Regions from separate parts of the Homo sapiens genome. Here all the other regions are linked to region 3. Evidence: fine-mapped expression QTL. A gene starts in region 3. Each other region holds a variant in brackets. All regions are shown on one strand. Distances are from middle to middle. Region 1 has its middle 9.0 kb from the start of MAEA. Region 2 overlaps MAEA (macrophage erythroblast attacher, E3 ubiquitin ligase). Region 3 holds the start of CTBP1-DT (CTBP1 divergent transcript).

The links.
Region 1: its variant is fine-mapped to the expression of CTBP1-DT in skeletal muscle (GTEx, PIP above 0.99). The same link has a PIP of 0.9 or more in tibial nerve.
Region 2: its variant is fine-mapped to the expression of CTBP1-DT in whole blood (TOPMed, PIP above 0.99). The same link has a PIP of 0.9 or more in lung.

What each region holds. Positions count from the first base shown.
Region 1 is chr4:1,275,955-1,285,876 of GRCh38, reverse strand. No RefSeq gene overlaps it. Among named protein-coding and RNA genes, the nearest start is that of MAEA, 9.0 kb to the left of the region's middle. The variant C/ACTTAC (reference allele first, on the strand shown) is at 4,720.
Region 2 is chr4:1,335,239-1,345,160 of GRCh38, reverse strand. It overlaps MAEA (macrophage erythroblast attacher, E3 ubiquitin ligase), which reads right to left. Exons shown (of 9, transcript NM_001017405.3): 7 at 8,167-8,300; 8 at 6,544-6,739; 9 at 5,024-6,087. The coding sequence ends at 5,992. It also overlaps a transcript of UVSSA not described here. Among named protein-coding and RNA genes, the nearest start is that of UVSSA, 7.0 kb to the left of the region's middle. RefSeq lists enhancers at 1-236, 5,461-5,979. The variant G/A (reference allele first, on the strand shown) is at 4,430.
Region 3 is chr4:1,244,429-1,254,350 of GRCh38, reverse strand. CTBP1-DT (CTBP1 divergent transcript) reads right to left here and starts at 4,911. Exons shown (of 2, transcript NR_033339.1): 1 at 4,879-4,911; 2 at 1,344-4,240. It overlaps CTBP1 (C-terminal binding protein 1), which reads left to right and starts at 5,221. Exons shown (of 10, transcript NM_001012614.2): 1 at 5,221-5,435. RefSeq lists enhancers at 3,943-4,032, 4,093-4,142 and silencers at 4,513-5,442, 5,613-6,332.

The DNA of each region.
Region 1 (9,922 bases), 32 kb before region 3:
GCTGGGGGTCTCTGGCTGACAAGTGACCAAGAAAAGTCATGCGCCGCCATCGTGTCCTGAACTGATTTTTCAGGTTTCTTTGAAACCCCCTTGGCTGAAGGTGGGGGTAGGGGGTTCCATTCAGTCAGTTGGGGGAGCTTAGTATCTTATTTTTGGTTTATATAACTTGAAATTGTCCAGCTGTCAGACTCTGCCACCAACTGGCTATCCTACAATCCAACCCCATTCACACTCACTCGCAGAGTTAGCACAGACCCCACAGGCCAAGGGCTCCGTTCCACAAGGCTGTCCCCACTCCAGGTGACGGCTGCACATGGGGTGCCCAGGCCACCCACAAGGCAGATGACACATTTGGGGCTCCCACAAACCCTTCCTCAGGTTCAATAATTTGCTAGAATGACTCACAGAGCTCAGGAAACACTTAATGCTTCCCAGCTTATTATGAAGGACACAGCTCAGGAATAGCTAACGGGAGTGCATCGGGCATGGTGGGGCGAGGAGCTCCCAAGCCTTCTCTGCGCGGCAGCCGCTCAGCACTTCGGGGCATCCACCAGCCAGGAGGCTCTCCTGAATCTCATTATTCACACATTTTCATATCTCAATCCCCAGCCCCCCTCATCCCCAGAGGTGGAGGTGGAGTGGGAGAGGGGCTGAGAATTCCTGCCAACCAATCTCCGGGTCTTTCTAGTGATATCTGGAGGCCCCACCCAGAGTCACTTCATTAACATAAACTCAGGTGTGGTGGGAAGGAGTTCCTTATGAAGAAAGAAGACGCTCCCACACTCAGGAAATCGCAAGGGTTTTAGACACTTGGTGACCGGAACCAGGGACCAAGACCAAATATACTTTTTGTCGTAGTATAGCATTCAACAGCTGCCATGTTCTGCGTCTCTTGGTTCAAACTTCCAAAATCTTAGGCTCCAAAGTCTTGCCCAGTGTGGGTTGGCTGTCCATCTGGACTAATCAGCTATGCCAGGGATGAGCTGTGGGGCACACGTGGTTCCCTTGTGTGGGTGGGCCAGGAGCACGCAGAGAAAAGCAGCCCAGAGACGGATGGTGCTGGGTGCCTCCTGCATGGCCGTGTGGGAGGACCTGACCTGTGGCTCAGGGACGCACTGTCATAGCCAGCTCACATCACATGCTGCAGGGGGTCCACATCCTGGGGCCCTTCTTATCTCCACTGATGGACGGACGTCAGGGCTCTGCTACTTAAAGGTAACCCCCTCAAGTTCGAGGGGGTGACTCTGCCCCAAGCTGCACGACACAGCCCTTCCTCTCACCCAGCCAGATCCGTTTTCTGCGCTGGAGTTGCCCCTGTCGTTATTTTGATCCACACATCTCTTAGGAGGTGGTTAACACCTGCTGAAAAACTTAATTCTTGAATGAATGAAACATGTACCTCACATCAGGTAACAAGATTTTACACAGTTCACTGTTCTGTTGGTTTTTATTTATTTATTTATTTATTGAGACAGAGTCTTGCTCTGTCACTCAGGCTGTAGTGCAGTGGCACGATCACAGCTCACTACAGGCTCTACCTCCCGGGCTCAACCGATCCTCTCACTTCAGCCTCCTGAGTAGCTGGGACTACAGGCATATGCCATCATGCCTAGCTAATTTTTAAAGTTTTTTTGCAGAGACAGAGTTTCACCATGTTGCCCAGGCTGGTCTCAAACTCCTGGGCTTGAGCACTGACTGTTTTGTTGGTAAGAAAATAGCATCTGATTTTCCCTTAAAAGTATTTAGTAATACAAACTATAATTAGTTCCTATGGTTAGCTGTAGAGGTGGAATCGACTCAAGCCACACAATTGTTATCTTCACAACATCTGTTTGTAAATGTCTCCAGTAAAGGCCTCCCGGCTCCCTGGAGGAGGAGGCCGGACACCTGCCAGTGCTGGACGGTGGCCTCCCTGCTCCCAGGTGGGGCCCAGCCAAGGTGAGTGCTTGAGGTAGCTTCGGTTGGGCCAAGCATCTTTTCCTCTGGATAAATACCCAGTAGTGGAATTGCTGGATGGTAGTTCTACTTTTAGTTTTTTGAGAAATTCCACTGTTGGTGGAGGGACTTCCCACTGTTAACCGGTACAGCCATCACTAATGTACACGCCCACCCACCGTTCCCACGGTTAACCAGTACAGCCATCACTATTGTACACACCCACCCACCGTTCCCACGGTTAACCGGTACAGCCGTCACTAATGTACACACTCACCGTTCTCACTGTTAACCGGTACAGCTGTCACTAATGTACATGCCCACCGTTCTGTTAACCGGTACAGCCGTCACTACTGTACATGTCCACCCACCATTCCCACAGTTAACCAGTACAGCTGTCACTAATGTACATGCCCACCGTTCTGTTAACCAGTACGACCGTCACTAATGTACACGCCCACCCACTGTTCCCACGGTTAACCAGTACAGCCATCACTACTGTACACACCCACCCACCGTTCCCACAGTTAACCGGTACAGCCGTCACTAATGTACACACTCACTGTTCTCACTGTTAACCGGTACAGCTGTCACTAATGTACACGCCCACCCATTCCCACGGTTAGCCGTCACTACTGTACACACCCACCCACCATTCCCACGGTTAACCAGTACAGCCGTCACTAATGTACACACTCACTGTTCTCACTGTTAACCGGTACAGCTGTCACTAATGTACACGCCCACCCATTCCCACGGTTAGCCGTCACTACTGTACACACCCACCCACCGTTCCCACGGTTAACCGGTACAGCCGTCACTAATGTACACACTCACTGTTCTCACTGTTAACCGGTACAGCTGTCACTAATGTACATGCCCACCGTTCTGTTAACTGGTACAGCCGTCACTACTGTACATGTCCACCCACCATTCCCACAGTTAACCAGTACAGCCGTCACTAATGTACACGACCACCGTTCTGTTAACCGGTACGGCCGTCACTAATGTACACGCCCACCCGCTGTTCCCACGGTTAACCAGTACAGCCATCACTACTGTACACACCCACCCACCGTTCCCACAGTTAACCAGTACAGCCATCACTAATGTACACGCCCACCCACCATTCTCACTGTTAACCTGTACGGCCATCACTAATGTACACGCCCACCCACCGTTCCCACTGTTAACCGGTACAGCCGTCACTAAAATACACGCCCACCCACCGTTCTCACTGTTAACCGGTACGGCCGTCACTAATGTACACGCCCACCCACCGTGTGTGAGAGCTCCCTTTCCTCAGCATCTTCAGCAGCATCTGTTATTTTTTGTCTCTCTAATAAGAGCCCGTGTAACTGGGGTAAGATGACGTCTCGTCGTGGTGGTGACTTGCCCTTCCCCGATGCTTAGAGGTGCTGAGCATTGTTTCATACACCTGTTGGCTGTTTGTCTGTCTTCTTTTGAGATATGTTTATTCCCAAAATAGACATTTCTATTTTGGGGGCTAAAAGTGCCCTCAGGCCACTTTCTAGTGGGATTTTTTTTTTTATTGTTGCTTGAGTTCCTTGTATACTCTGGATTTTAGTCCCCTGTTGGATGAATAGTTTGCAAATATTTTCTCCCATTCAACAGGTCGTCTCCACCCTCTGTTGACTGTTTCCATCATAGTGGGTTTTTTTGGGTTTTTTTTGAGATGGAGTCTTGCTCTGTCGCCCAGGCTGGAGTGCAGTGGCACAATCTCAGCTCACTGCAGCCTCTGCATCATGGCATTTATTTTATTTTATTTTATCTTATTTATTTATTTTTTGAGTTGGAGTCTCACTCTGTCGCCAGGCTGGAGTGCAGTGGCGTGCTCTCGGCTCACGGCAACCTCTGCCTCCCGGATTCAAGTGATTCTCCTGCCTCAGCCTCCCGAGTAGCTGGGATTACAGGCGCCCACCACCACACCCGGCTAATTTTTGTTTTTTTGTTTTGTTTTGTTTTTAGTAGAGATGGGGTTTCACCATGTTGGTCAGGATGGTCTCAATCTCTTGACCGTGTGATCCACCCACCTCAGCCTCCCAAAGTGCTGGGATTACAGGCGTGAGTCACCGCGCCTGGCCCACATCATGGCATTTTTAAAATTCATCATTTAATGTCATTCTAAGTAAAGAAAAATAAGCAGTTATTCACACGAATTGTAGTGTTCATCGTCACCTAACGCTAGTTTTATTTTTTATTTTTATTTTTATTTATTATTATTATTTTTGAGACGGAGTCTTGCTCTGTCACCCAGGCTGGAGTGCAATGGTGCAATCGTGGCTCACTGCACCCTCCACCTCCTGGGTTCAGGCGATTCTTCTGCCTCAGCCTCCTGAGTAGCTGGGACTACAGGCGCCCGCCAACTATGCCCGGCTAATTTTTGTATTTTTAGTAGAGAGGGGGTTTCACCCGTGTTAGCCAGGATGGTCTTGATCTCCTGACCTTGTGATCCGCCCGCCTCAGCCTCCCAAAGTGCTGGGATTACAGGCGCGAGCCACCGCACCCAGCCTGTCCAACGCCAGTTTTAAGTGCAAACATAAGCAAATCATAGTGTTCACCATCATTTGTCTGACGCCAGTTTTAAATGCAAACGTAAGTGCTTTAGTTCGAACTCTGCGTCACCAAACTCACGAGGCCTGTGCTTCCCAGCTCGATTGCACAGACCTGTTTTGTTCTTCTTCATGGAGTGCTGCATGAAGCTAATGCAGCTGTGATTTCATTTCTGATGTGCACATATTTTACCAATGCCCTCTACTTTTA[C/ACTTAC]TGACAAGTAAGGGGTGTCTGGAGGGAAAAGGAACTGTGGGTTGCCTCATCTTTCCTCCTGTCCACCATGTTCAGCACACGCAGTTCTAACGTGAGGAAGTCCCATGCGTAAGAAGTACATGATGGGGTATGTGTTTCTTGGCACTCCCCTGTTTCTTTTGTGTTTATAGCATGTTCTGGTTCAAACAGAAGGCATGGCCTCTCTGGACTTTGGGGCCACTGCTCACTCCGTCCTGGATGTGACACCCTCACTTGCACCCACTGGAAACCTTGCTGTCCTTCCACACCTCATGGACCCCTCAGAATTCTGTGTTCGTGGGGAACTACCCATGCTCTATGCAGCTGGGGTGCCGGGAACAGGTGCAGATGGGATGTCTCTCACCGTTGACCATCTTGTATATGCAAGATTTGGGGTTTTTTTGAGACAGAGTCTCGCACTTTTGCCAAGGCTGGAGTGCAGTGGTGCAATCTCTGCTCACTGCAAACTCTGTCTCCTGGGTTCAAGCAGTTCTCCTGTCTCAGCCTCCTGAGTAGCTGGGATTGCAAGCACACGCAGTTCTGATGTGAGGAAGTCCCATGCGTAAGAAGTACATGATGGGGTATGTGTTTCTTAGCACTCCCGTTTCTTCTGTGTTTATGGCATGTTCTGGTTCAAACAGAAGGCATGGCCTCTCTGGGCTTTGGGGCCCCTGCTCACTCCGTCCTGGATGTGACACCCTTACTTGTATTTACTGGAAACCTTGCTGCCCTTCCACACCTCGTGGACCCCTCAGAATTCTGTGTTCGTAGGGCACTACCCATGTGCACCACCACACCTGGCTAATTTTTGTATTTTTAGTAGAGACAAGGTTTCACCATGTTGATCAGGCTGGTGTCAAACTCCTGACCTCAAGTGATCCACCCGCTTTGGCCTCCCAAAGTGCTGGGATTAGAGGTGTGAGCCGCCTTGCCCGGCCGTATCTGCAGATTTGTTTCTTGAATTAAATTGGGAAAAGTTCCAGTTACGATTTCTTTTTTTTAATTTTAATTTATTATACTTTAAGTTCTGGGGTACATGTGCACAACATGCAGGTTTGTTACATATGTATACATGTGCCATGTTGGTGTGCTGCACCCATTAACTCGTCATTTACATTAGGTATATCTCCTAATGCTATCCCTGCCCCATCCCCCTCACCCCACGACAGGCCCCGGTGTGTGATGTTCCCCACCCTGTGTCCAAGTGATCTCATTGTTCAATTCCCACCTATGAGTGAGAACACATGGTGTTTGGTTTTCTGTCCTTGCGATAGTTTGCTCAGAATGATGGTTTCCAGCTTCATCCACGCGTCCCTACAAAGGACATGAACTCATCCTTTTTTATGTCAGCCACGATTTCTTTAATGATCTTTTCCTGCCCCATTCACTCTTGCTTCTCCTCCTGGGATGCCAATTACGTAAAGGTTGGACAGTTGGACACTGTGGTCTCCGTGGCGGTGCCACAGGACGGCAGGGCTCAGTCACGGCAAGCTGGGAGGAGCTGAGAGCCAACTCCTGTGCTCAGTGTGTCTGTTGGGCTCAGACACACAGGGAGCCAGAGATTTTGCGTAGACATGTGAGGAGAACTGCTGAGCACACTTCACACGGCAGAGCTCCTGAGCCGCGACCCTGGCGGGGTTGTGAGGAACAAGAGAGGATAGCCAACAAGATGGAGAGGAGATGGTGCTGGGCCATCCACACTAACCTGGCAGGAACTGGAGACCTGCTGGGGTGGTTGTACTAAACAGAACAGAGAAGGCAAGAAGAATGCAGTGCTGCACGGCCCCTGCACATCAGCATGGATGCTCCCAACGGGCAGAGCTCACAGAACGCAAGGATGCAGCCCTTGACCAGGGAGGAGCGAGGACGCAGAGGACCAGGGAGGAGCGAGGACGCAGAGGACCAGGGAGGAGCGAGGACGCAGAGGACCAGGGAGGAGCGAGGACGCAGAGGACCAGGGAGGAGCGAGGACGCAGAGGACCAGGGAGGAGCGAGGACGCAGAGGACCAGGGAGGAGCGAGGACGCAGAGGACCAGGGAGGAGCGAGGACGCAGAGGACCAGGGAGGAGCGAGGACGCAGAGGACCAGGGAGGAGCGAGGACGCAGAGGACCAGGGAGGAGCGAGGACGCAGAGGACCAGGGAGGAGCGAGGACGCAGAGGACCAGGGAGGAGCGAGGACGCAGAGGACCAGGGAGGAGCGAGGACGCAGAGGACCAGGGAGGAGCGAGGACGCAGAGGACCAGGGAGGAGCGAGGACGCAGAGGACCAGGGAGGAGCGAGGACGCAGAGGACCAGGGAGGAGCGAGGACGCAGAGGCCAGGGCAGAGCATGACTTGGGAAGTCCAGGGCGCAATTGGCAAAGGATCCTCAGCTATGACACCAAAGGTACAAGCAACACAATGAAAAACAGAAAGATCGTACTTCATCAAAACTAGAAATGTTTGTGCATCAAAGGACATTACAAAGAAAGCAAAAAGACAACCTACAGAATGGGAGAAAATATTTGCAAATCATATTAGATAAGACACTTGGAGACAGAATATATAGTGTTTACAACTCAACAACAAAAAGACAACCCCTTAAGAAATGGACAAAGCACTGAGTACACATTTCTGCTGAGAAGACTTACAGATGACCAATTCGTCACTGAAAGAGGCTCACCACCATGAGTCACCAGGTAAGGTGAATCGTGACACTGAGACATGGCTTCATAGCTGCCAGGAAGCCAAATCCAAGTGGCCAGCGTCAAGGAGACTGTGGGAAGTGGGAACCTCCTACTTTGCTGGTAGGTGCAAAATGAATGCACTTGCTGTGGAAGGTACTTTGGCAGGTTCCCAAAAGTTAAACAGAGTTAGCATAGTCAGCAATTTCACTCCTACGTAGATACCCCAAAGAGCTGAAAATTGGCATTCCAACAAAAGTTTACACATGTAATAGCAGCACTATTCAGCCAAAATGTGGAAACGGGTGCCCATCTACTGGTGAATAAATGAACAACACATCGCCCATCACATGACGGAATATCATGCAGCCATGAAAAGGAGTGAAACACAAGCACGTGCCACAATGCAGGTGAACCTCAAAAACACCAGCTAAGGGAGCTAAGCCGGTCACAGAAGAGTGTATAGCGTGTGACTCCAGTACTAGGAAATGTCCAGAAAATGCAAATCCGTAGGGACAGGATCAGACTGACAGTTGCTGGATGGGGGTGGAAATGGGAGGTGACTGCCGCTGGCACGGGGTCTCCATCTGCCCACCTGGGGCAGCTTCATGCCGCATCTGGGCCTCCCGGGTACTGCCCACCCCAGGTGAGGGGCCACCCCACAGGCAGGGCTCCTCTCTGGGCATTGCACCTCAGGGGAAGACTGGACACTGGCCTAGAGATGTTGTTATTTGTTGTTAAATAAAATTGAGGAATTTTAAAAGATAGTTTTTTCTTGTAAAAAATATGTACCATAATATTTCTCATTTTCATCATTCGTAAGTGTACGATTCAGTGGCATTAGCTATATTCACAATGTTAGGTACCCATACCACTATCTATACCCAAAACATTCATAATTCCTAACATAAACGATGCCTCAATTAAACAAGAACTCCTCGTTCCCCTCTGCCCCCAGCCCCTGGTAACATCAGTTCTAGTTTCTGTCTCTATTAGGCTGCCTGTCCTAGGTACCTCATCTAAGTGGAATAACATCTGTCCTCCTGGGTCTGGCTTATTTCACTAAGCATAATGTTTTCAAGGTCCACCCATCTTGTAGCATGCCCCAAAGTCAAATTTTGTAAATTTTATAAATTTTGTACATTTTTCAATTTTTCTTCAGGTACTGATTTCTAACTTTATACTGTGATGGTCAGACAGGATTCTTTTGTATGATATCTATCCTTTGTAATCTGCTGAGGCTTAATTTGTGCTTAACATGTAGTCTATCCTGGAGAATGTCCCATGGACATTCCTTTTCATGGCTAAATAGTATTCCATTGTATGTGTGACCAAGCTTTGTGTATCCATTCCTCTGTGGACGGACTCTTAGGTGTTTCCAGCTTTTGGTTATTGTATATAATGCTGCTATGAACATTCGTGTACAGGTATCTGCTTTCAATTCTTTTGGATCTAAACCCAGCAGTGGAATTGCTGGGCCATAAGAAAGTTCTATTTTTAGCCATTTGAGGAACTGCCAAATCGTTTCCTACAGAGTCTGCACCATCTTCCATTCCCGGCAGCAGTGCACACACAAGGGTTACAGCCTCTCCATGTCCTCGCCAATGCTGGTCTTTTTCCATTTCCTTGATGATGGCCACTGTCATTGGTGGAAAGCGGCATCTCTGGGTGGATTCAGTCTGCGTGTGCCCCAGGACTAATGGTGCTGGGCATCTCTTCATGTGCTCATCGCCCACCTGTCTATCATCTCTGGAGAAATGTTCACTCAAGTCCTTTGCCAGGGCCAGGCACGGTGGCTCACACCTGTAATCCCAGCACTTTGGGAGGCTGAAGTGGGCGGATCACTTGAGGTCAGGAGTTTGAGACAAGCCTGACCAACCCTGTCTCTACTAAAAATACAAAAATTAGCAGGGCATGGTGGTGTGCACCTGTGGTCCCAGCTACTCGGGAGGCTGAGGCACGAGAATCACCTGAACCCAGGAGGCGGAGCTTGCAGTGAGCCGAGATCACACCGCTGCACTCCAGCCTGAGCGACAGAGCAAGACTCCGTCTCAAAAAAAAAAAAAAAAAATCCTTTGCCCATTTTTAATTTCTTCTTGTTTCTTGTTGTTGAGTTATAGACATCTTTATACCCTCTGAATATTAGCCCCTTGTCAAATAGATAATTTGTAAATATTTTCTCCCATTCTGTCTTTTCACTTTCTTGATGGGGTCCTTTCATGCAAAAAAGTTCTTCCTCTGATAAGTTCAACTTCTCGATGTTTTTGTTGTTGCTGCCAGTGCTTTTGGAGTCATATCCATGCACTTATTACCAAATCCAACATCATGAAGATTTCCCCCTGTGTTTTCTTCTAACAGTTTATAGTCGTAGCTCTTAAGTTAGGCCTTTCATCCATTTTGAGTTAATTTTGCTTTACGGTGTAAGATAAGGGTCCAACTTCATTATTTCGCACACATATATCCAATTTCCCCATTGCTGTTTGTTGTGAAGATTGTCCTTTCCCTATTAAACGGTCTTGGCA
Region 2 (9,922 bases), 91 kb before region 3:
GCCGTCACCTTGTCTTTCCCTTGCACCCTGGTACCCCTAGACCATCATGCAGCAACCAGAGGGACCTTTGAAAGTCTAAGGTCGGATCACAGGATTCCTCTACACAAAATCCTCCGACGGCTCCCATCCCAGGGCAAGGCAAAACCTGTCGTGGCCTGTGTTTGCTGCCCCCTGCATCCCACCGGTTGACTTCTCCAGCCTGCTCTTGCTGCCACACGGCCTCTGGGGAGCGGATCCCTCTGCCGGGAAGCTTCTGCCAGTATCCACAGAGTTCCTTGCCTCCTTCCAGCCACTGCTCATGTCTCACCCTGAGCAAATACTTCTGCACCCGCTCACCTCCCTGGCTCAACACCCCCCATCCGTTTTCTAAACCTGCCGTGCTTGTTCCCAGGGCACTTCTGGCCCTTGTGTCACACAGACTTACTGTCTTACTAGGTGATTCGCTTTTTTCTCTTCACTCCTAAAACATACAGTCCCTGAAAATAGGGATCTTTGTTTCATGAAGCCAGACAAAAAGCAGGTGCTCAATATTTGTTGAATGCTGGATAAGATTAGAAAGCCAAGATAAATCATGATGAGAGTTAGACGATATTCTTGTTTGTTTTTGTTTGAGACAGAGTCTTGCTCTGTCGCCCAGGCTGGAGTGCAGTGGTGTGATCTCGGCTCACTGCAACCTCTGCCTCCCAGGTTCAAATGATTCTCGTGTCTTGGCCTCCCAAATAGCTGGGATTACAGGCGCCCACCACCACGCCCAGCTAATTTTTGTATTTTTAGTAGAAACAGGGTTTCACCATATTGGCCAGGCTGGTCTCGAACTCCTGGCCTCAAGTGATCTGCCCACCTCAGCCTCCGAAAGTGTTGGGATTACAGGCATGAGCCACTGCACCAAGCCAAGAATTAGAAGATACTTCTAAAAGATATTTTAAAAGAACCAATGGAAACTTAGAGATGATAAAACCCAAGCAGGATAAACAAAGAAAACCACCCAAGGCACATCTTAAATTGCAGAAAACTAGTGACAAATCTTAGAAGCAGTCAGATTAAACAAGGCGTATGACATACAGGCACAAAGAAGCCAAGGATTTCTTGTCCCCTCCTCCCCCTCCACCCAAAAAAAAAAGCCAGAAGAAAATGGAACATCTTTAAGGTGGTAAAAGAAAAAATACTGTCAATCTAGAACTGTATATGCAGCAATATAGCCTTTAAAAACTGAGGTGATGTAAAAGCATTTTCAGACAAAAGCTGCATGAATTATGACCAGCAGATTTGCAGTCCAGGAACTGTTATAGGATGCTCTTCAGATGAAAGGAAAATGATACCAGAGGCAAACTTTATAAAAGGAATGAAAAGTTCTATAAATACTTTTTTTTTTTGAGACGGAGTTTCACTCTTGTCACCCAGGCTGGAGTGCAATGGTGCGATCTTGGCTCACTGCAACCTCTGCCCTCTGGGTTCAAGCGATTTTCCTGCCTCAGCCTCCCGAGTAGCTGGGATTACAGGCACGTGCCACCACGCCTGGCTAATTTGTGTATTTTTAGTGGAGACAGGGTTTCACCATGTTGGTCAGGCTGGTCTCGAATTCCTGACCTCATGATCTGCCTCCTGGAGGTGGCAATACCTTAGATGCGAGAAGGATCTAAATCTGCAGGAAGATATACCATATTCATGGGTTGAGGACTCAATATTGTTATGATTTATAAGTCCTTGTTATGGACTGAATTGTGGCCCCTGCCTACCAAATTCCTATGTCGAAGCCCTAACCTCCAATGTGACTTTATTTGGAGATGAGGCCTTTAAAGAGGGGAACGTTAAATGAGATTCTAGGGATAGAGCCCTCATCTGATAGGACTGATGTCCTCGTAAGATGAAGAGACTCCTGAGATGTGTGTGCACAGGAGGAAGTCCACCACGAGAGGTACACAGTGAGAAGGGGGCCGTCTGCAAGCCGGGAAGAGAGGCCTCACCGGGAGCCAACCCTGCCAGCATCTCCTCTAGAACCGTGAAGAAATAAATGTCCATTGTTTAAACCCGCTAGTCCGTGGTCTTCTGTTACGGCAGCCGAGCAAACTAATACCGTCCCCAAATAGGGATGATAGGTTCACTGCAGTTCCAGTGACAATCCCAGCACACTTTTTACAGTGTTCAGCAGACACTGATGAGTTGATTTTACAACGTGCGTGGAAATGCAACAGACCTAGGACCACCAAGACCATTCTGAAAAAGCAGAACTGGAGGACTCATCATACCCCCTGGTTTCAAGATTTGCCTTAAAACGGCAATAGTTAAGATAATGTGGTGTTAGGACAAGGATAGACCTAAAGGCCAGTCTAACAGAAGGTAGTGTCCAGAAATAAACCCCAACTTAACACAGCCAGGAATTTTTTCTAATGGAGCCAACGTTATTCAACGGGATAAGAAAGGTCTTTTTAACAAATGGTGTTAGAACAATAGAGTAAACATATGGGATGGTGGGGAATCATCCTCAGGCTCTTCCTCACACAACACACACAAGTTAAGAGATGTGTTACAGACTTAAAAGCCGAAACTGAATCTTCTGGAAGATATATTATTGCAACCCTGGAATAGGCAGATTTTTTTTTTAGAACATAGAAAAGCATTAGCCACAAAAGAAAGAATAAATTGAACTGCACTAAAACTTAAAAAATCTGCTGATCAAATGACAGTCAATAAAGTATAAATACACATATCCCTCAAAGGATTTGTATGTGAGGAATCCCTACAAATCAGTAAGATAATGCAATTTAAAATGAGCAATAGACAAATATGTAAATTACAATCAGCGCATCAGGTCAAAATCAGACATCAAAGAAAAGCAAGGGAAAATCACACTGTGGCCCCAGTGCACACCCACCTGAATGACTAACCTGACACTACCAAGTGTTGACAACAATGTGGGGCCACTGGAATCCTCACACTGCTGCTGGAGTGTAAAACACTACCACCAACTTTGGATAAATCTTTGGCAGTTGTGGTACAGTTAAACATAAACACACCATGACTCAGTTCCTTCTACTTCCAGAGAATTACTTCCCAAAGAAATGAAAATAATGTCTGCAAGAAGACTGGCACACAAATGTTCATAAGAGGTTTACTTATTATAGCCCCAAATAGGGAACAACCCAGATGTCTATCAAGAGAATGGATACAGGCCGGGCGCAGTGGCTCACACCTGTAACCCCAGCACTTTGGGAGGCTAAGGCAGGCAGATCATGAGGTCAGGAGATTGAGACCATCCTGGCCAACATGGTGAAACCCCGTCTCTACTAAAAATACAAAAATTAGCTGGGTGTGGTGGTGTGCACTTGTAATCCCAGCTACTCGGGAGGCTGAGGCAGGAGAATCGCTTGAACCCGAGAGGCAGAGATTGCTGTGAGCCAAGATTGCGCCACTGCACTCCAGCCTGGTGTACACTGTGGTCTGTGCATACATGGATTACTATCACTCCACTCAGCAACACCTAAGGACGGAACTGCTGACATGTGCAACAGGCATGAACCTCACAAGCGTCTGTGGAAACAAGCCAGATCCACCAGTGTCCACATTCCACCATCTGACACCTATGGAGGCACAGCTCACCTACGGTGACAAAAATTAGAGCAATGATTTTGTGTAGGGGTTGTGGATAACTCAGAAGGTACAAGGGGTCCCTTTCTGGGGCCATGGGGACGTTCCATGCCTGGGCTTCAGTGGTGGTCACATGGAGGTACATTTATTAAGACTCATTGAGTAGCTTTTACTTGTATGTGCATTTTGGTGTATGTAATTTTTACCTCAATTGAGAAAGAGTACAGCGAGATAACACAACCAACAAAACATCTCACATTCAAGACTCCCAGTGCCACTCGCTGGTGTGGATGTGGAGCAGATGGGCAGAAGTGGGTGCAACCCCTTTAACAAACCGTCAGTGTCTGCTGAGTGGACACGTGGCCCAGCAATGGCAACTCCTCGGCATCTCCCCACAAAAGAATGATGCGTCCAGCAAGGGTCACCTCCCGGAGTGCTCACAGCAGCTTTACCTGGACACCGCCTGATGTCCACCGGCGGGAGAGGGGCCAGGCCGCTGCGCTTGTTCTGCCTGGAGAGCACAGGCCTGTAACCAGGCAAGACTTTGCCGTGCCAGGGCTGAGCCGCCGAGTAACGCTGAGCCACGGACCCACGCCATGTGGCTCTGTGTTCGAGGAGCTCAGGGCCGGGGTGCGCCACTCCAATGATGACTGACCAGGATATTGACCGGGCAAGGCCAGGGGCTGGGAACAGTCTGTTTGGTGGTTACATGCATGTTACACAGAAATTCGTTATGTGAACTTAGAATGTGTGTGCTCCAGTATGTTCTACTCGAGTTAAAAAGGAAAGAACAGGACGCAAGACAAGGAAAGCCCCTGCACGTGAGGACGGTGGAGGCCGGGGC[G/A]GCTGCGTGGCAGTGGGGCCACAGGGTCTGCTTCGGCCGAGGGGACCTGGGGACGGGCGCTCCAAAGAAGAGCACGTGGGAATGTGGTGGGTTCCAGCTGGGTGCTGTGGAGGGGCCAGGGCAGCCACCATGGGGTAAGAGATGGGCTAAGGGGCACCAGGCTGGCCACAGGAGCTGCGACGGGGCACTGGAGAGAACAGGGGTGGGCGGTGGGGGGAAGGGCCAGTGGCCACAGCCCGCAGGCCTCCTTAGCCCAACCCTAGACTCAGCCCAAGCCGCAGGCCCAGGCTTGCTGGTGGCTGCAGCCTGAGCCCCCACCCCCAACAGACAATGGCCCGTGGGTCCCAGGAACCAGTGTCTGATTCACCCAGCTGCAAGCCGGGGCCTCAAGACGCTGGGGCCATCACGCCTCAGGGCAGCGCCCGAGAGGAGGACTGCGGTCCGGGCAGGAGTGGCCTCCAGCCGGCTTCTCAACTCCCGGTGGCCGTGGTGCCAGAAGCTACGCATATGCCCGCCATGCTGCCCGGGCCCCGGGGAGGAGCAGAACACAACCTCGGTGTTAGAAACGCACGGCAGCCTCGGCTCACACGGAAATGAGAAATAGAAAACCATTTTATTCGCATGGTTTACATTTACAGTTTATTAGCTAGTCAACATCAACATGCAAAAATAAGCACTAACTACAAACCTCTACGATACGGTTCTCTGTCAGCTACGGTGGTTCATTTGTTTTGAAAAGTCATCAGTACTTCTTTCAACTGAACGATTAATTTCTGTAATGGATAGCAATTAGACTCTACAGTTATGGAACCATCCGGCAAGGCCTCTGCAGAAATTTGGTCCCGTGGATTTCCACGTTATACATTCTCGAAGCAGGAAGTAAGGCGGCACACAGAGGGTGTGATATCGAAACGACGCAGCTACGAACACAGCCCCGCGATGTGATATCGAAACTATGCACGTACGAACACAGTCCCGCGGACACGACCCGCGAGGCAGGCGGGCGTCCTCGAAGCCAGCCCCCGACGGTGGCGGCGCCAGGCGTTTTGGCAGCAGCTCTCGAATGAAGCCATAAGTGTCCCTCGTGGCGCGGCATCGCGGGTCACTGCAGGTCAGTCCGGTGCCGCTGCCACCTTCCCCGGCCAGGCCAGGGCCAACAGGAAGTGGTGAAGGACCAGCCCGTTCTCCAAGTCTCATCGTTCACAGAAGGAAAGAAACTGAAAACACAGGGAAATCACGGACTCCTATATTTTAAACGTTCTTAAGTTTCCCTCGGTGTTTAGGTCAGTCTTTAAAGAAGAGTTTCCTTCGCAAGTTGAAAGTACTTTTCAGAAGCATCAAATGGTTGACGTGTTACAAAATCCTACCAATCCAAATGTTTTCAAGTACAAACTTATGAAACCTTATTTTCTCTCTTCCTAAGAGTATTTATCGTTGCTCACGGATCTTTGGTCGCAAGAAACAGAAACGCCGCGGCAGGCTGGAGCGTGGGACAGGAGGAAGGCGTGGCCTCCCCGCCCACTGCAGCCCGTCCCCGAGGCGTGCGCTTCACGACGTGGGGCCTACATGATGTACACCTTCTCGGCTTGTGAGAAGTGGAAGACTTCTTTGGTTCTCGGGCACACGACTTTATCATCTTGACGGATAGAAAGCAGAGACTGAAAAATAAAACCGGGAATGCATTAAGGCAAGCGACTACAACGTACACACGGATTTCCATGGAAAATCCCCACAATGAACCACCAGGGAATGACTCATCCTCTCAGGCAAAGTTCCTTCCCGAAGGCACACCTGCCAAAGAAATCCCGGGGCCACCTCGCCTGTCCTTCCCACCCCTTCATCCATTTCGAACGAAGCTAAGGCAGGGTGGGGCGAGAGGACAGCCCTGTCCCAATGGCGACGTGTGCCAGCCTGGCCCCGCTGCCCTGCCCGCCCCACACAGCCCTGTCCCGATGGCGACGCGTGCCAGCCTGGCCCCCCGCCCTGCCCGTCCCACACAGCCCTGTCCCGATGGCGATGCGTGCCAGCCTGGCCCCCCTGCCCTGCCCGTCCCACACAGCCCTGTCCCGATGGCGATGCGTGCCAGCCTGGCCCCCCTGCCCTGCCCCCCTCACATTGTAGCCGTAGACGTAGCCGTTGGGCAGCATCATGGGCGGATTGTTCTCGTTCATCACGTCGCCAGAAATCTTGCAGACCAGGCGGGAGTTGGCACAGTGGGCCATGGGCAGGGGCTGCGCCAGCTTGTTCAGGGAGCGGCTGCACACAGGGCAGTCAGGGCTCTTGGAGCTGCCGTCCTCCTTGTAGCACTGTCTGAGCATCGGGTCAAGGAAGGGTTGGGGGCCACTCAGGGCAGCCGGGGTGAGCCCAGCCCCCTGTGGCCACTCTGCCCTGGGCTGCGTGCCCTTCTGGCTATGTGGGCGCCATGCTGACTACACGGGGCTGTCTTTCGAGGCACAGGAAGTGCTGCACTCGACAGCTAAACAGCCCCACTGAGGCCTCGGTGGAGACAAGAAGCCTGCGCCTTCTCACCCCGGCCTCCAGCACCAGGACCACAGGCACAGAGTGGCTCCGTCGCCCGCCGCCCTCTCCCCGGCCACGCAACCTCTCCAGGCAGGACAAGAGCCACCCAGCAGGGACGTTCTGCTGGCACCTAGGAACAGGCAGTGGGCAAGCACGCCAGCCCTCTCGCCCAGAGTTCCACAAAGAGGGGACAAGGGAGGGGGCCTGAGTCTCATTCATACCCCGGCACAGCCAGGTACCAGCAGCAATCGCGAAACACTCACTGCCCTCTGGGCCTGAGGCAGGTCACATGAAAGACATTCATAGGCGGGGACAGAGTCAGTTGCAGGAGGACAGTCAGTCACAGGTGGGGACAGAGTCAGTCACAGGTGGGGACAGAGTCAGTCACAGGAGAGGGCAGAGTCAGTCACAGGCAGGGGTAGAGTCAGTAAGAGGCTGAGTCACAGGCAGGACGGAGTCAGTCACAGGTGAGACAGTCACAGGGCAGGGGCAGAGTCAGTCACAGGCGAGGACAGAGTCACAGGCGGGATGGACTCAGTTGCAGGAAGGGACAGACTCAGTCGCAGGCAGGGGCAGAGTCTGTCACAGGCAGGAAGAAGTCAGTTGCAGGTGGGACAGAGTCAGTCACAGGAAGGAATCAGTCACAAACGGGACAGACTCAGTCACAGGCAGGGCCACAGTGAGTCGCAGGCAGGGACCAAGTCCGTTGCAGGCGGGAGCCGAGTGAGTCACAGGCAGGAACTCAGTGAGTCGCAGGTGGGACAGAGTCACAGGCAGGATGGAGTCAGTCACAGGCAGGGACAGAGTCACAGGCAGACAGAGTCGGTCACAGGTGGGACAGAGTCAGTCACAGGCGGGACAGAGTCAGTCACAGGCAAGGTTCTTGGTAATCACACGGGAAAACTATTCTGAATGGTAATCTGCCGGCTGCCAGAACACATCAAAATCGGGCTTTTAGATCAATGCCCATGGCGGCCTCTGAGATGATGAGAGAGGAAGCGCGCCACTTCCCAGAGTGAAGGCTGCACGACGCATCCGAGGCCCCTCAACACGGCCCCACCCCGACCATCCAGACACCACGCAAGTGCAGCACACGGGAGCTCGGGGCTGTCTGTGGTGGGAGGACAAGAGTGGCAAGGTGCAGGGTCAGCGTGTTAAAATATGACCAAAGATGCCAACCCCAGGCCAAACCGCACTGCGCACGGGAGGTAGGATACGGTGTCTTGATGGCTGAGAGGCCAGCCTGCAGGGTGAGGGTGAACACAGAATTGTTTCCCAGCTGGTGTAGTCGGTAGTTGTCGTACCGGAACTGCTGGATCAGCATCCGCCACCGTGCAGGGTCCAGAAGGTCCTGGAAGACAGAGAGCAGAGGGTCCTGGGGATGCTCCCAGGGAAGCTCCTGGGACAGCTTAAAAACGTGGACCATGGTGAAGCAGGTGCCATCGGCCCACAGCCATCCCCCAGTGACCCACACACTTTGCACTAAGGGTCAGCACAAAGCATAACTCCCTCAAGTGTTGACTGATACACACAGTGGGATGAGTGCTGACTTAACTATGATTTCAACATGCTGCGGGATGAGTGCTGACTTAACTCTGATTTCAACATGCTACAGGGTCAGTGCTGACTTAACTCTCTGATTTCAACACACTGCGAGGCCAGTATGAACTTAACTCTGATTTCAACATGCTGCGGGACAAGTGCTGACTTAACTCTGATTTCAACACACTGTGGGATGAGTGCTGACTTAACTCTGATTTTAACATGCTGTGGGGTGAGTGCTGACTTAACTCCGATTTCAACATGCTGTGGGGTGAGTGCTGACTTAACTCTGATTTCAACACACTGTCGGGGGAGTGCTGACTTCTCTGATTTCAAAATACTGTGGGGCCAGTTCTGACTTAAGTCTCTGATTTCAACACGCTGTGAGGCCAGTGCTGACTTAACGCTCTGATTTCAACACCTGCAGGACAAGGGCTGACTTAACTCTGATTTCAACACTCTGCGGGACGAGTGCTGGAACTCTCTGATTTCAACATGCTGCAAGGCCAGTGCTGATCTAACTCCCTGATTTCAACATGCTGCGGGATGAGTGCTGACTTAACTCTGATTTCAACACACTGCAGGGCAGGTGCTGACTTAACTCTGTGATTTCAACACACTGCAGGGCAGGTGCTGACTTAACTCTGTGATTTCAACACACTGCAGGGCAGGTGCTGACTTAACTCTGATTTCAACACACTGCAGGGCAGGTGCTGACTTAACTCTGTGATTTCAACACACTGCAGGGCAGGTGCTGACTTAACTCTGTGATTTCAACACACTGCAGGGCAGGTGCTGACTTAACTCTGATTTCAACACACTGCAGGGCAGGTGCTGACTTAACTCTGTGATTTCAACACACTGCAGGGCAGGTGCTGACTTAACTCTGTGATTTCAACACACTGCAGGGCAGGTGTTGACTTAACTCTGTGATTTCAACACACTGTGGGGCCAGTGCTGACTTAACTCTGTGGTTTCAACACGCCATGGGGCCAGTGCTGACTTAACTCTGTGATTTCAACACACTGTGGGGGCCAGAGCTGACTTAACTCTGTGGTTTCAACACGCCATGGGGCCAGTGCTGACTTAACTCTGTGATTTCAACACACTGTGGGGCCAGTGCTGACTTAACTCTGTGGTTTCAACACGCCATGGGGCCAGTGCTGACTTAACTCTGTGATTTCAACACACTGTGGGGCCAGTGCTGACTTAACTCTGATTTCAACACACTGTGGGGCCAGTGCTGACTTAACTCTGATTTCAACATGCCACAGGGCTGGTGCTGACTTAACTCTGCTACACTCACTTGTGAATCAACTTGAATGATCTGGAATGTGTGCAACCTGTGCACTGTGACAAAAAATAGACTCACACAGCTGGAAGGACAGCTCAGTGCAGAGTGCACCTCAGAGCATTAGGTGTAAAAACTCT
Region 3 (9,922 bases):
TATCAAGTTATTTGCTGCAGGGGTGGTAGGGCCTGGACTGTGAAACCTGTGAAAATTCGATACCTAGGCTGGGCACGGTAGCTCATGCCTGTAATCCCAGCACTTTGGGAGGCCAAGGTAGGAGGATCACTTGGGCCCAGGAGTTCAAGACCAGCCTGGGCAACACAGCTAGACCCTGTCTCAAAAAAAAATTCAATACCTGAAGTCTAACAAGGCTCTGAGTCCTGATTATCAATTGTCATCAAAACTGTTTCTGTCTCACAGAACCACAACAGGCAGGCAAACACAGAACCATCCTGTTGTCTTCCTGTTCCTGTGGGCACACTCATTCACATCTCTCCTGATGGCGTAGCCCTTTGAGTGCCCTTGTTCCAGTTCCTGATTCACGTGGATCCAGGGAGGCCTCGTCTCCTTTCCCATGTGAGTGTGGAGACTTAAACCCCGGGGCTCCAGACGAACACTCTCCTGGGCTGCTGCCCTTTGGCTCTCACACTTTAAGACCTGGTTTTCAGCCTTCTGTTTGTCTCTGGTTCCTGTCACATCCCTGACCTCCTTGTGAGCTCAGCTCTGCATCAAGTTTGTTGTTTCTATCTTGTGCTCACAAGTTCTGTTCTGGGAGGCTTTTGGGGTTAGACCATCACAGGTAAAGACAGAAGGGGAAATCTACTTTTGCACCATTTCTAAGATCAATTTCTAGGCTTGTTTTCAGAACATTTGCCATCCCCCTCTGTTCTGGTTTGAATAATTGTCCCCTCCAAAATTCATGAAGTTTGATTGTCATTGTGATGATCTTGAGAGGTGGAACCTTTGAGAGGCGATGCAGCCACGAGGGCTTTGCCCTCCTGAATGGGCTGGTGCTATTATCATGGGAGTGGGCTTCTTATCAAAGGGTGGGTTCAGCACTCTTTTCTCTCTCTCTCCTTGCCCTTCTGCTATTCTGCGATGTGATGATGCAACAAGAAAGCCCTCACCAGATGCAGCCCCTTGAGGTTGGACTTCCCAGCCTCCAGAACCATAAGCCAACAAGCTTCTGTAAGCTGTCAGTTACCCAGTGTGCAGGAGTCTGCTATAGCAGCACAGAATGGATGAAGACATCATTTTGCAATCCTACAAGAAAGGTGTTCTTTTGTACTCATTTCATCACTGGCTAAACTGGACTCTGGATGGCTAAAGTAACAAGGCAGGTCTGTCTGCTTCCAGAGGACCTGTCCTGCTGCGGCGGTTCTGGGCTCCCCTGCGCTTTGTGGCATTTTACAGCTTGCAGTCATCCTGCAAGGTAGATGTTACTTCTCTTCCCATCTTATGGCTGAAAACCAAGCCTTACAGCAGTTATACAAGTTATGTGGCAGTTTTCAGCGATTGTATTAAAAAATATTTTAGGTAAACAATGTGGTGTATATACGCAATGGTATACCAGTCAGCCTTACAAAGGAAGACAATGCTACCATATATGACAATATAGATGAACCAGAAGGGCATTATGTGAAAAAACCCAGGCACAGAAAGACAAATGCTGCACAATCTCACTCACAGGTGAAATCTAGAAAAGCTGAACTCACAGAAGCAGAGGGTAGAATGGTGTTTACCTGGGGCTGGGGCCGGGCAGTGATGTTGGTCAAGGGATACATTTCAGTTACATTGGAGGAATATGTTCTAGGGATCTATAGTAGGACATGGTGACTGGAAAATTGCTAAGAGAGTAGATGTTAAGTGTCCTCACCACACCAAAAAACAAAAAGTATGTGAGTTAATGCATGTTAATTAACTTGATTTAGCCATTCCACAATGTATTCATACTTTAAAACAAGTTGTAAACAATATATACAAGTATTATTTGCCAATTAAAATACATACATTTAAAAATATTTTAGATATTTGTCCATTTTTGTTTCAAGTTTACTTGCTGGTCATTTTATTGTTAAAAAATTCTTGGTTGTTTTCGGCTGGGCACAGTGGTTCATGCCTGTAATCTCAGCACTTTGGGAGCCTGACGTGGGTGGATCACCTGAGGTCAGGAGTTCAAGACCAGCCTGACCAACATGGTGAAACCCCATCTCTACTAAAAATACATAAAATTAGCTGGGCGTGGTGATGGGTGTCTGCAATTCCAGCTACTCGGGAGGCTGAGACAGGAGAATTGCTTGAATCCGGGTGGCAGAGATTGCAGTGAGCTGAAATTGCACCATTGCACTCCAGCCTGGGCAACAAGAGCGAAACTCTGTCTCAAAAAATAAAAATAAAAATGACTGGTTTTTTTTTCTGTGTGTACATGACTGACAAGACCAGTGGTTTCCTTTAATACCTCATCGACGTTCCCAGGCACTTTTTGTATTTGAGGTGTGTGAAGTAATAGGTTGGCCCTTGTCTTGAGCGTGATACTGAACACACCGACTAATAAAATGGGGGCCTTTGGCTGCACACCAGGCGCTCTGGGTACTGATGAGCTCGCCCCCAACTCCATGCCAGGAATCAGAACGGTTGCCCGGGAGAGTCGGCAGAAAGAGGAGGAACCGGATGCAGTGATCTACCTGGTTTGTCCTGGTGTCCAGTAACTTGGAGTTCTTCTTTCACACGTGGCTGGCACAGAGGAGACACTCATAAATACCCGAGTTGAATAAAATAGTCCATTGACATGGAGTCGCATGAAGCAGCATTCGTCCATCCAAAACGCCGATGCTTCTTTAGAGTGGACTGAGTTTTCCCCCAATACTAGGTTGTCCCACGCGATGGACAAAAATAGCCCATGTGGCAACGGAGGCTGGCCGGGGGGACCTAATGCCCATGCCTCTGGCATTCCCACCAAGGTGACTGTCCAGTAGCTCCCAGGACAGCCCATCCGTGTAGGGCAAACGCCATGAGCCACTCCTGTGTGCAGGCACAGGGCAGGCCCAGGCACAGGGAGGCGGGTGGGCAGGCACACAAACAGCCAAACGCTGACCCTGGAGGGCGGTGGTCATCTGCTCATCACAGGGGAAAGACTGGAGGTGGGAGAGGCAGGTGCCACCCGCAGGAGTTGGGACGAGCTGTGCACACGGCTGGGCACACGCAAAGCTGAGCCTTCTTCGTGAGCAACACGGTCACATTTGGGTGTAGGAATCTTGGCTGGAGTTGCCCAACGTGGGGAGCAGACAGCTCTGCAGCCAGGACCCCAGTTGGAGAAGGCAGCGCTTGGAACAAGCCAGGACAGTGGACAGACGGGCCGGTGCCAAATAGAAGTCATGATAACGCGCTGACAAGCTGTGCAGACGAACACTGTGTGTAGACGGAGGCCATGGAGAGTGACGATGGGGAAGACGCTGGATCCCTGGCTGGCCTGCATCCCTCTCCGTTCTCAGTTGCCTGTGGAATTCCGGGGAGCTCTGCTCCAGCTACACTGCACATAAAAGTGCGCAGGAAGTGGATCCTGGAGAGGAACTGTTCTTCTGGACTGAGCTTGCTGCTCATGGCAGCCCCACCTGCAGGACCCAAAGCCTTATGTGATGTTTGCTGGACACTCAGCCACGTGGCTGCCTGTTGAGCTCTGCAAGTCCACGCGGGAGCCAGGAATTCCTCCCCAGAAGTCTCTCCATTATATTCACCACCCCCTAGTAAATCACAACCTGACTTGCTGCAGAGGATGGAGTGCCTGGGACTCGTCTGACCCCAGCTCCCCTGGGGAAGTGGGGGTGGTACGTCCCTGCACCCGGCCACGTGCTGCCTTCTCCTGGGCTGCCTGTCCATGCTGAGCAGACAGGAAAGTCCAGTGAGGTCCCTGCCTGTGCACTCCACCAACCACATCGTCCCTTCCCGGCAGCCTCACCTAGGCCCCTCCAGCTACGACCCCTTGTCCCCTGCACCGATGCCTGGCCTTGGAGGTTGCTGCTCATTTTTCTGGAATTTTTTCTTAGATCTCTGCAGGGCTGCCCCTCCCCCTACAAGGGCTCCACACGTGTTCCCTCCTTCATGACTCCCACTGGGCTTCCCCGACAGGGCCTCACCCTCCCCAAAGCTCTGGTGACACCTGCCAGGTTTCCTCCAGGCCACAGCTCGGCAGCCCGATCTTAGAACAGAACGTGGCACGCAGGGCAGGTCTGGCTGAGGGCCCAGCATTGTCAGCGGGGTTGGAGGTCTTCCCGGGCCTCGAAGGGGAGACGTAGGCTTCTCAGGGCAGCCCAGGACGCGTCCTCACGAACCACAGCGAAATTACAGCAGGTATCTCGCGGATAGGAGTCTGCATCATTCCGTCTCCATGCCGTGGTTTCTGAAATTATGCAACTATCTCGGCATTCCAGAGGGCTCAGAGTAGCCACGCGCAGAGGCCCTCCCCATGGGGTGGATGGAAGCGTCCACTCGCGGCGCGAGGAATATCCCTGGGCCCCTCGGGAGAGTCTGCAGGGGCAGCCCCTGGGTGAGCAGGCCCAGTGCGGCCTCTCCCTGAAGGGACTTTCGGGCCCTCCCGGGTCGGGGCTTCACCGGTAGCAGGCAGGGCTTTGATATTAATGCTTAAAGGGAAAGCAGAGCTGAGCTGTCAGGACGTTGGTTAGCTACAAACCCTACTCTTGTTAAAAGAGAAATGGGGTCGGGGAAGGGGTTCTCCAGCCCTGAACTTCCCGGGCCGGGCAGGACGCGGTCCCTCCAGGAGTCGGGGCTCCCCCGCCTGGGGACGCACTGGGGCAGGCGCGCTTCTCCTCTCGGGGTCCCATGTGCCGCCGGCTCTCGGACGGTAAATCAGGGCTCGGGTGGGGGCGATGGGGGGCCCGCGGCCTCGGTGCCCCTGGCCAGCCTCGGAGGCGCACGGGCCAGGCCGCGGGGCGAGAAGCGAGCGCGGGAGGGCGGCAGCTGGCGGAGCGGGAAGGGAGCGGGGCGGCTGCGGCTGCGGCGCGGAGGAGCGCCATTTACGTTCGGGCCCGCGCCAGGCGCTGACGTGGGCGGCCCTGTCTCGGCTTCCGGGCCCGCAGGGTCCTCGGGGCGGACGGCGCTCCCGCCAGCGGCGCTGAGTCCGGCCCGACCCTGCCCGACTTCCTCGGGGACAGGCGGTTTAGAACGTGCGGAACACCAGGCCCGGGGCCTCCGCCGGGCTGCAGCCCCGCGAGCTTCCCGCCAGGCTCCCGCCCCGCCCCGCCCCGCAGCCGCGTCCCGGCCGGGCGGGCCCTGAGCCGCCCGCGTGAGTCCGTGCGCCGCCCGCGCTGGGAACCAGGAGACCAACCGCGAGGCCCCGCCCGCGCGCGCCGCCGTGTCCCCGCCCGCGCGGTCGTCGGAGCGCGGCTCAGCGGCGCGGCGGAGACTCGGCACGGCGGCGGCCAGGCGCAGGCGGGCGGGCGGAGCAGCGGACGGCGCCGAGGCCGCCCCACGCGCCGGGCTCGCGGCGGCGCAGCGCGCCGGAGTGGTCGGGGCCCGCGGCCGCTCGCGCCTCTCGATGGGCAGCTCGCACTTGCTCAACAAGGGCCTGCCGCTTGGTAAGGCCGCGCGCGCGCGCGTTTCCGGCCGCGGGCGGGGGCGGGGCGGGGCGGGTGCCGCGCGGGCGGGGGGCGCGGGGGCGGACCGAGCGCGCGCCCGCGGGCCGCCGGCTTTGTGTGCGAGTGCGCGTGCGCGCCGGCGTCCGCGCGTGGCCGCGGTCGGGGGCGGGACCGCGGGAAGGGTCTTGCGCATGCGCGGGCCGCTGCGTGTGCGCGAGCGCCGCAGTCTGCTCTCCCCGCCCGCGGCCCGTGCAGGTGACACAAAAGGGCCTGTGGGCCTCTGGGCTGCCCCGCCGGACCCCCAGCTCCACCGACCCCAGCCCCGTCGGACCCGGGACGGCACCCCGGGTCCCGATCCCCGGCCGCTACCCCGTCCCCGGTCATGACCCCGTGGCTGGGCCTGCGGGGCCGGGATGGGGCGGGAGCCGTGCGCAGCTCGGGGTGTCCTGGGGCGCGCGCTCCCGGGCCACTCGCGGGAGCGCGCCTCCCGCGGGGAGGCCGCCGGCGACCGTGGCCGCGCGCTGTGGGGGAAGGGGACGGGGCGCGGGTGCCGGGTATGACCGTGGAGGAGGCCGCTGCCCTCAGACCGGGCCCAAAGCGCAGCCCCCGGCGGTGACGCGGGAGGGCCCGGGGTCTCCGTTCCCGCGAACTCCGCGAGGTCCCGGACCGGCCCAGCGCCCCCACCTGCCCTTGCCTGGGCCCGCCCAGGTCCCGGGGCGCCTTCCTCGCGGGCTGCGGCCGCGGAAGCAGGGAGCACGGGCGGGCGCCGGGCTTGCCACCATCGCCATCTTGCAGCGCCCGCGTCCTGGGCCGGCCCGAGCCGCTGCGCGGAGCCTCTCTTTCCCTCGACCCGGCTGCAAAGGCAGAGTCCGTGCGCCTGAGCCCCGGGCCGAGACTGGAGCGTTCTCTGGCGGCCTCCAAGGGCGCCGGTGTCTGGAAGCCCGGCCTGGGCCAGATCCCTTTTGCTGTCGTCTCCGTGATTGCCGGGACAGAATTCCCTTCCAGTGGGGAAAAGGGAAGGCGGTCGCGCCCTTCCCGGTGCCCTGAGTGGGGAGGTGAAACCCTGAGAGTTGGGGCAAGAGGGCCTGGAGCTAGGGCCGAGGCGGCGGGTGCGCAGGGTGTTCCGTTGAGCCCGAGCCCCCCCCCCCTCCCCGGCCTCTCCACCGTTTCTGTAGGAGCGCGGCAGGGAGCACACGTCCCTCGGGAAGAAAACGGCGCTGGCGGCTGGGCCCGCACCGCGGCCGTCCTCGCTGAGCTCCTAGCGCGTGGCCTTTGCGCGTCTGTGTACCCGTCTGCAGCTTGGGGCAGGGTTGGGGGAGAACCGTGGGGTAACTATTTGCCGTTGCAGCTGAGGATGACAGCTGCGGTTTGGGGGTCCCCCTTTCTGTGTCCTGGAACTTTGTAGGGCGTGGCTCTGCCCTGGGCCTCAGCACCCGGCCTCCCAGGTCTCCCCTGCCTGCCCGGGCCTGGCCACCTCCCTCTGGGGTCTGGGTTTGGCTCCTGGTTGGGGCTGTCGGCTCCGCAGACGCCTTTTGCTCTCTGTGATTCTGTTGCCCATCTTTGAGCACCTGCTTCCATACAGGCGTCCTCTGCAGAGCTCTGGGAGGGACACGCACTGGGGGTGGCATCTGGTCACTCCTGGGGGTGCCTCGTCCGCCTGCCCGGCCATTTTTGGGGTGTCTGCCATGTCCCCAACATGCACTTCTTCCTGTCAGCCTTGACCAGGGCAGCTGTTAGTTCTGAGAGGTGGGCGTGTGGTTGGGGATGTCAGCGAGTAGGATCTTCCCTTTTACTCGCTTGTCATTAACCTGAGAACGTGGCAGTGGGGGAGGAGAGGCTTGGCCCGGGGTGCACAGGACTGTGGGCTGGTCCTGTCCCTCTGATGAGTGGGACGAGCCTTGGTCCAGTCCTGTGGGCTTGGCGCAGAGCCGGCCCCCTGCCATGTCCTGGTGGGATTGGAAGTGCTGGCTCGTCCTGTCTGCCTCCCCCAAGGGCTGGGAGCCCCCCACTCTTTGGACATTTGTAGTGTAAGCAGACAGCAACTGTTAACCATCATTCTGTTAATAAATTTTTTCTGGAGGAACCCTGGACAGAAGTAGTCATGCTCTCCAGGAAACGGGCCCCAGGCTCGAGAGGCCCAGTCTCTTCCCTCGGGGCTTAGAGGTGGCCGTCAAGCCACACCTGGTTCCCCACCAGCCTGGCAGTTTTTCTGGTTTTTCTCCTCTGACTGTCACTTGCCCTCTCAACTTCCTGCGGCCAGTACCCCCAGAATGTGACCTGGTCTGAGCTGACGGTGGTGTCACTGAGCCAAGAGGCGTGTGGCTGGCACCACTAGTGTTGCTGAGAACTCTTCAGGCAGCACTTTGTGCCCGGCTGTGCCCTGGTGCTCCCCATGCAGTGCCCAAGTCAAAGGTGTGTGCCCTGTGAGGTGTTTACCCCGGTTGACTCTCCTTGTAGAAGGACTTAATGTTTCCCACTCCACTGGGGGCTGGAGAGGGCTCCATCCAGGTGGTGCTGACGGTGCAGGCCTGGCCCAGGGCCCAGGGGTGGCCAGGAGGTGGTAGAGGCAGCAGGCAGTGTCATACGGGTTCTGTGGTTGAACTGCATCGCCCAAGGGAACGCTGGTCGGAGCGCCGGGTGGAGCGCCAGGGTCCTCTGGTGGTCGCTGGATGTTGGTAGTTGTGGGTAAGAGCTCTGTGCCGGGAGTGTCTGGACCCCCGGGTCCTCCATTGTCAGCTGCAGTGGCCGGAGCCCACTGCTCTCCCCCGCACTGGGTCGTGGTAACCCACAAGGTGCCACCTGCGTCACTGACCATCGTTTCCAGAAGCCCCTCCGGCCACACATTCCATGTGGTATCTCCCACAAGGAAATGTTCGTTTTTTTCCCTGTGAAGCCAGAAATTTCTTGGTGGCTCTTTGCCGAGCCAAACGTTAACCTTGAGTTGTCTCTCTGGGCGGCCCCAGGTGGTACCAGTTCTCACGGGTGTTGAAGGAGAGTGAGGATGGCCCTGAGGGAAGCCCAGTTGGTTTGGTTGGGGAGGCGTTGGGGCTATGGCCCTGAGAGAGGTGTGGGCGGTGTTGGGACCAGGCCCCTTCTGCACCCTCCCCTGGCACCGCCGTTAACTCTCCAGGCCTGGTGTGGCCCAAGCCACCCTGCCTACCCGTGCTACCCTACCCACACGTGCCACCCTGACCTGCTTGTGCCATCCTGCCCGCCCGTGCCACCCTGCCCACCCGTGCCACCCTGCCCTGCCGCCCGTGTCACCCTGCCCGTCCATGCCACTCTGCTATGCCGCCCGTGTCACCCTGCCCTCCCGTGCCACTCTTCCCTGCCGCCCGTGTCACCGTGCCCTCCTGTGCCACCCTGACCTGCCGCCCGTCTGTGGTGTGGGGGCTCCTGGGCTGCCCTGTCTGCGTGGCTGGCAGGAGCCTCAGAGGCATCCGAGGCTGTCTCTCCAGTGGTGTCGTGTGTAGACTGTGTTGGGAAGGGGAGGAAGGTGTAGCCCTGATACCCCACATGTGGTAGGAGCCAGGAAGGTGGCGTTCTGGGGGTTCCTGGAGCTCACAGGTTGTGTGCATGTGCTCGCTGAACAAACAGGGAAACGTGCGGCTCCACGGATGTCCTGGAGAGGAATCTTGCTGGCAAATCCATGCCTTTGATCACAGCCCCTGCGCTGTGTCCTCTGAGCTGTGATGCGGCCCTGCAGGCCCCGTGGAGTGCGGTGGCTCCCTGGCTCACAGGGATGCTGCCGTCCAAGGTGCCGTATCGGCTCGTGGATGACTTGGGCAGTGTCTGTCTGGGGTGCTGTCGTCGGAGGAGCTGTTTCAACCTGTGGGTGACGGGCCTTGTCTGTCTGGGGGAGGTTCTCTTGGCCCCGTGCTCTCAGCCCAGTGGCTCCATGCTGCTGTGCGGCTCCCTCTTGGGGGCCTGCCTTCTCTGCCATTGCAGGGCAGGGCCTCAGTTTTCTCTGGGCGGCAGGTGGCTGTATCTCAGGACTGGAAGGCTCCGGGTCAGGCTGTGCACAGCCTTCGTTCATGTCAGCCCCTGGCTGGGCAGCACCGCCAGGCCCTAGTCTTTGGGCCTCCAGGCCTGGACAGCCAGAGGGGGCATCTCACCAATGCCCAGATGGCTGCCGGGGACTCACGGCAGGGCAGCTTTGTCACGAGAGGGCCACTCGAGCCCGGAGTAATCAGGGCTTATGGGGACAGGGCAGGGTGAGGGCCGCTGAGACCACCCAGCCTTAGGGTGCCCTTCTGGTGGTCGGGGAGCCCTTCCTGGGCAGCGGCTTTAGGGGCTGCTGTGGGGAGGGGGAAGAAGATGGGGTTGGTGAGGAGGAGCTTTTGGGACACTGTCCTGGTGGAGGTCGTGAGGGAGGGGAGCGGACCGGTTGGCCCAGCAGGGCTGGCCAGTGGAGGGACGTGGAGGGTTGGTAGCTGCCGAGCCTGGGTCTGAGCAGGCGGGGATGAGGACCAGGTGCTGAGGCTGGG